2 linked regions of the Homo sapiens genome follow. The protein of the gene in region 1 purifies or fractionates together with the protein of each later gene. This does not show direct contact. Each region holds a gene or a part of one and is shown on either strand. Other genes may lie near its edges. The genes, in order: TAPT1 and FSD2.

What was found.
Region 2: the proteins of TAPT1 (region 1) and FSD2 purify together in Homo sapiens (co-immunoprecipitation; one large-scale study listed by IntAct). This does not show direct contact.

The regions. Positions count from the first base shown.
Region 1 is NC_000004.12:16,181,436-16,185,267, reverse strand, and holds part of TAPT1 (transmembrane anterior posterior transformation protein 1 homolog), read left to right. Parts: intron 1-3,832. UniProt on the Homo sapiens protein: Plays a role in primary cilia formation. May act as a downstream effector of HOXC8 possibly by transducing or transmitting extracellular information required for axial skeletal patterning during development. May be involved in cartilage and bone development.
Region 2 is NC_000015.10:82,754,530-82,757,965, reverse strand, and holds the end of FSD2 (fibronectin type III and SPRY domain-containing protein 2), read left to right. Parts: 3' UTR 1-2,604; downstream 2,605-3,436.

The sequences.
Region 1 (3,832 bases):
TACAAAAATAACATTTCAATAAAAAAGATATTTTATAAAACAAAATTTAGTGAGAAGAGTTTCTCAACAAGTAATGCTGGAACAGTTGGATAAAGGTTAAAAAAAAAAGAACTTTGGCCCCTTCCCTGCCCAAGAAAATTAATTCATAGTGGTTCATAACCCTAAACATAAATGCTAAAGTTATAAAACTTCTAGAACAAAATATAGGAGAAAACATTCACAACCTTGGTCTAGGCAAACATTTTTGGAGACCACACAAAAAGTACTAAATGTAAAACAAAAGAGAGAAACTGGACTTCTTCAAAATTAAAATATGTGATCATAAAACTTAAAAAGTGAAAAGGCCAGCCACAGTACTAAGAGAAAAGATTTGAGATGCATATATCTGACGATAGATTTTGTTTGTTTGTTTTCTGAATATATAACAAACTATACCAATCAATAATGAAAGGACAATCTAGTTTTAAAATGGGGAAAAGGCTTGAACAGACATTTCACAAAAGAAAATCTATAAATGTCCAATAAGGTCATGAAAAGCTGCTCGGCATTATTAGGGAAAATGTCACTGGAGAAAGACAAAGCCATAATGAGATAGCACTGCACACCCTCCAGAGTGACTGCTCTTGTAGCCTGACAGTGCCACAAGTTAGGATATGGATTAACTGGCACTCAGGCATCGATGGCGTGAGTGTAAAGTATTACAACTGCTGTTTTTGGCCATTTCTTTTACAGTTAAATGTTCACCTGCCCTGTAATTCAGGAAATATATTTCCTCAGTAGGACTTGTTGCAAGAATTATTATGGCAGCTTTGTTCATACTAGCCAAAAACTGGAAACAACCCAAATAGCTATCAGTAGGAAAATAAACAAACTGTATATCCATACCATAGAATACTACTTAGCAATTAAAGATAAAAGAATGAACTCCTAATATTGTCAGCTATGTAGGTCTCAGAAGCATTATGTTGAGCAGAAAAGCCAGACACAAAAGTGTACATGATGTATTATTTCATTTATATGAAGTTTATGATCAGACAAAATTCGTTTATGATGATAGGAATAAGAGGTTGTTTGTTGGGCATTTGGATTGACTAAGGGGACTCAAAGGAGCTTTCTGGATGATGGAACTTCTTTCTGTATTAAGGGCTTGGTGTCTCAAGTTATGCATTGATCAGAACTCATCACATAATGTACTTAAGATCTGTGCATTTCACTGTATGTAAATTTTACCTGTATATTAGACAAGGAAAATAATGGCATATGAATATGTTAAACAAGTTATAGGAGATTTGAAAACTAAGCAAGGAACAAAAAGAACAAATGGAAAACTTGAACATAAAGCCTAGATGATTCTATGAGGCCATGCTGGACCTGACTCTCAAGGCTCTGAGAAGCAGTTCATATTCTTGCTGCTTATTAATGTTGCTCACCTTTCAAGTGCAGACTGCCAAGTGTCATGAATTAGAAATGAAAGAGGAAGGAGGGAAGGTACTAAATTATAGAATACTTTGCTTCAGTAGTTAACCATAGAGTAAATTGATTCAACTGTAAGAATTTCGTTTGTTGTGGAAACCATGTTTTTTTTAAATTAATTCATATTAGTAACCTCCTTTGGGTAAGTGCTCTTTATAGAGCCTTAAACTAGACACGCAGATCTTAAGTTTTAAAGGTTTTCAATCCTTGTGTATAAAAGCTTCAAAATTATGAGGGGGAAATTGTGAATGTTTTTAACCTTATGGCCAGCATGTTGATGTAATTAATACCCCTTTTCATTTTTATAAACGGGTTCCCCAGAATTCCAACCTCTTAGCTTAGAAAGATTAGGTATTCAATATTTGAGTTTTAAGAAAACTCTGGGAAAAAAAATGATATAATGATCAGGTATGCATATCAGTCTACAAGAAATTTGGACTTTATTTTGGCTTAAAATGGTTACTACTTAGCACCAAAAAAAAAATTACTTTTTGCTGTAAGCAAAGTAGCTCATGTTACAATGCAAGGTGGTCCGCATTGTACCCTTTAAGAGTTTTATAAGAAATTAACTTTACCCTAAGGCAGATTTTAAGACCCTTCTCAAGTAAGAAAAAAAATATTCTAGGCAACGTTCAGCTATTAAAATGGAAAGATCAGGAGTCACCAAGAGGTGCTTTTTACTCTTTATATGAATATGTTGCCTTCTTCATATGCTTCAGTAGTAGCTACTTAATGAGAGCCAGTCAGGAGGGATACTCATATCGGCTATTTTTTTCTTATGAATTTTCCTATGAATTTTTTCTCCATCAGAATTTGAGTTGCCAGATACGTAGTGTAAGGTTCAGTCCTTCATGCTGGTTTAATATAGAAGACTTCATGGAGAAATCTGAGAGTAACTTTACCCCTTTCAGTGGTAGCTCACTGTATATTTTCTTTGGAGGAATTGCCTGAGGACATGTGAAAAGTAGTTTAGTTACCAAAACCAGATTTTTAACAAATTATCCTTTTCTTCACTTCATTTTAACATAAGCGTTAGCTGAATGTGGAACCCCAGCCTTTCTGGTTTGCATTCTTGAGATGAAGAATTTTAGGTAGTTTTTTACGCATTGGTAATGTGAACTGTGCATTTAGAAAGGTCCTTCAGGAGTTAGGTTGTCTGGAGTAAGCTTATAGCTCACTTAGCACTCTTAGAAGCCTGCATATCTGCAATAAATGTGGATGTTTGTTGGAAATAGTCACTCATTTTATATTTAAAATGTGACTGCAAGTATGTTAAAGTATATCCCTGTTAGTGGTAATATAGCAAGGAAAAAGCTTAATAACCTGAATGTCAGAAATATTTTAAAAGCATTAATACCAATGTTTTTAAGCTTCTTAATAAAGGTTAGGAGAAAACATTCCTAGAAATTTTAATTTTTAATCAATGTAAGAGTTCAGTTCTAATCCGAACCCTGACTATTCTGAAGATGAGATGGTATAAATATGTTGCTGATTGCATTATTTATCTAATATATGTTTGATTATCAGTATCAGACTCTGTTATTCTCATAAAAATTTTATTTCTTTTTATATCTTACTTTGGAGAAACTTAAAATTTGGGTATTTTTTAACTCAAATTTTAAAAGTCAAATCTTGATTTTATAATGTCTATGTAAAACATTTAAATGTAAAAGTTGTGAAAGTGTAAGAATAAAACTTCCAAAAAATCTTCACATAACAGCCTCATTTTTATAGTTAGATATAGTTTTGTATCTTTATCTTATCAAATAAAGATAGAGTTAATTTTTATGGTGTCACTTTTTAATCTTTAAGCTTGCCATCCTTCACATCCTTCATCTTATAAAATCGCATTCATTTACCAAATTTATCCATTTTTATTAATCTCTATCATATTTTGAAATAGTCTGCTTTTCTAAAATTTGTTTTGGGCCAGGCACAGTGGCTCACGCCTGTAATCCCAACACTTTGGGAGGCCAAGATGGGCGGATCACCTGAGATCAGGAGTTGGAGACCAGCTTGGCCAACATGGTGAAACCCTGTCTCTGCTAAAAATATAAAAATTAGCCGGGCATGGTGGCACATGCCTGTAATCCCAGCTACTCCGGAGGCTGAGACAGGAGAATTGCTTGAACCCGGGAGGTGGAGGCTGCATCCAGCCTGGGAGACAAAGCAAGACTCTTGTCTCAAAAAAATAAAAAAATCTTAAAAAATAAAATCTGTTTTGCCTTAAATACACCTTTAATGAGATAAGTTTTTCCCCCTTTCATCAGTATCCTTAGAAATGAAATTATTGCAGATTTTCTCTATACTTGCAGCTGCCATATGTCCAAAAATCAAATACAATTAATTTAAATTCGAT
Region 2 (3,436 bases), on another chromosome or scaffold:
GCACTCCAGCCTTGGCAACAAGAGCGCAACTCTGTCTCAAAAACAAACAAACAAACAAACAAAAAACCTCTGATGTTTTCCAGCACCTGCAAAGTCTGACAAACTGAAAGACTCTCATCTCCTACTAAACTCTGCCTACTCGTATAAATGGCAGCTCAGATTCCTGAATTAACAATTCACACTGACAATTTAATAACTCGTTATACACACACACACCTATCCTGCCAAGCTGGACTGTCTACTCTGAAACAAGGGACAGCAGATGTAAGCACAGAAATAGTTCCAGTTATAAACAATTAAAAGATACATATCATGTATATTTAAAAATGTTCTCGGCCGGGCGCGGTGGCTCACGCCTGTAATCCCAGCACTTTGGGGGGCCAAGGTGGATGGATCACAAGGTCAGGAGATCGAGACCATCCTGGCTAATACGGTGAAACCCCGTCTCTACTAAAAATACAAAAAAATTAGCCGGGACTGGTGGCGGGCGCCTGTAGTCCCAGCTACTCGGGAGGCTGAGGCAGGAGAATGGCGTGAACCCGGGAGGTGGAGCTTGCAGTGAGCCGAGATGGCTCACAGATCAAGACTCCATCTCAAAAAAAAAAAAAAAAAAAGTTCTCAGCTACTGAAATAGAAACTACCAAGTAAGAAACAGGATATCACAGAGAAGGCAAGTTTGAATTCAGGGTTCTAATAGGCTTTATGGAATACTACACGTTAGTATGAACACGGATAAATGGATTAAAAACTCAACACGTATAAAGTTTTAATTAAATTTTTATTTGACCAAGAAAAAACTGTCTAGAATTGCCTGACATTTAAAATCCACTTAAAGCAGATTAGCAACTTCAAGCATCACAATTATTCAGCATAAAGAGCCTTTGTTGAAACATCTTTCTCATTTATTTAGAAGAAAACATCTAGAACAGAACCAAGCAAAACTTTTGTATTTTTGTAAAAAATCTCAATTCCTGAAACTACTATAAACAATCTACTGAAACTGTATTCAGCAAGGGACAGATTTACCTCAAGGCCATGTTCACCTGCAACCTGCTGATAAGTCTGTTAAAAAACAAAGCAAAAAAAAGAGTTTTTAAAAATTAGACCACTGTAGCCACAATCCCTAACACTGGACAGTTAAAACAAAAGTTATCAAAATCTGTTCTTTTCTTAGCTTTACCTGTATCACTTTATAACTCCTGAGAAAGTCATTCACATAAGCTGTGGCCTCCCCACCTTAACAAAGGGGAAAAAGAATATGTAAAACCACCACAGAATCTTGGCGTAAACTAACATGGGTTTAGTAATACAGAGTACAGTATTCAGGATTTAAGGCACCCTTACAAGTCAGAATTGGAAAGTTGGTTTGAGACTTGCAATCTAAAATGACACTGATTTCTGATAAAATTAAATGACTTTTATTTAGAAAAGTGTGTTTAATAAATTACTTCCTGCTGGTTCAAATGACACACAATCACTTTGTATACATCCAATAAGATATTTCTGAAGTGTATACTTGGTCAAAAGTAAAAAGCAGAGCAAATGCATGGACAGTGGGGCCTTCTTCTTAATACTTCTCATCCTCCAAAATCTGTTAAAATCATCATCTTCCACAACTCACACACTGGAAGCTGTCCACAGCACAATTCACTGTGATGTGGCATTCTGTAAATAAGACTACATTGGTCTTGATGCAAGGCGGTTCAGCTACCAGACTGCACTATAAGAAAAGTCCTCTCCTCAACTTACCAAGAAAACTTCGCCAATTTCTAGTCACCTTCCTATCAATTAGTAGAGCAAGATTCTCACATGTTCACTATGTCTTTCTCCAGTTTTCTCATCTATAAGTGTACTACTCCTATTTTCTATAGGAAGACAATGGAAAGCGTGTAATTGCTGTTGGTAGATAAGTAGGTCTTGAATTTATTTTGCAAACAAGACCTGTTCTATCTACCTTTTCATTTAGGAGGCTAAAAGCAGAGTCAGCTTGATTTCAAGGACTCTATTTTCTTAGTCTCCAGAAGAACATAACCAAATCCAGCTTTTAAAACACTGTCCTTTAACAAGTCAAGATACTCAAATAAAGATCATGTATAACTTCAAGCTATAGGAGATTAACTCTGTACATATGCTTGTTTCACTGTAACCAATGGTTAATTAATCTAAATGCAAGAGAAAAGTTATTTGGAAAGAAGACCCCAGCTGGTCAGCATCTTTTCTGTCATCAGGAAGTCTCCTGGAAGGAGTATGACTATGACCTGGGCACAACAACTGCCCCTAAGTTAGTACTTATTTTAGAGTTGCTACTGAACAGGTGGTGGTTCTTGTCAAGTATATCATGTCTGACTACTTTACTGCTTGTTTTCTGCTATCACCAGTTCCAGAAAAAAAAAAAAAAAAAATTAAGCCCAACTCACTAATTGATTGCTTTTTCATTTTCCCAGACTGTGACAGAATCATGGTTTTTAGCTCTATTTTCACCTTACTCAAATCCTGGAGGAATTAAACTATCATTTATTTGAAATGTTACAAATTAGCCTGCAGTTGATTCAAACAACATGTAGTCACTCAGACATAGCAAATAAAAATGTTTTGGTATATGAACTTGGATTCTAATCTTGCTGTCTCTACTACTCTCATTCCTAAGTATAAATGTTAGGTCTCTTGCTTGAAAGGAATTTAAGAGATGCCCTTAAATTCAAACAGACTGGCTCGCAGAAAGGAATATAATCCATTCACTGGGAAAGTACACAGCCAACAAAACTGAGATTTCCCAACTATGCACTGTAACAATGCAGAAACACAGTTTTAGAGATGGCTTTACTGGGTATATACATCGCTCTTGGTAGACCCATCTATTATTCTGCCACCCAGAAAGATTCTTACCCTCCTACTTCCTTCCAAACATTCATTTAATTTAAAGGTGACAGGGACAGGGAGAGGGAAGGAAAAAACAAGAAGCACTATCCAAAAGTAAGAACAGTACTCTGGAGAAAGGTAAAAGATACTCAACACTGTTTTTTGTACCATTTACGATTTATAAATCAGCCACAGAGTCCTAGGCACCCAGAATGGACCTCCCCTTCCTTGTCTACCTAATGCCTGTATAGCTCCAAAATCACCTCTTGGAAACACTGCCTTATTCCTCCCCCTCCCAGGAGAGGTTAAGTGCCACACTCACCTCTTTTAGATTACTTCAGTGGCTATACTGCAATCATTGACTTGTGTCTGCTCCACTTGACTATAAGCAAATTGAAGGCAGGGTTTGTGCCTTCATAATCTCTGAATGATCTGAAGATGGAAATAACTGCTTTGTGCTTTCAGGGAGCTCATATACCTGCAAAGAGAAAAGAGACATCAAATTATCTTCCAAAATCAAAGGAAAAGCCTCTTTATTAGAAAGCAAAGCAGCTTTCAAATTTGTGTGTGCTTGGGG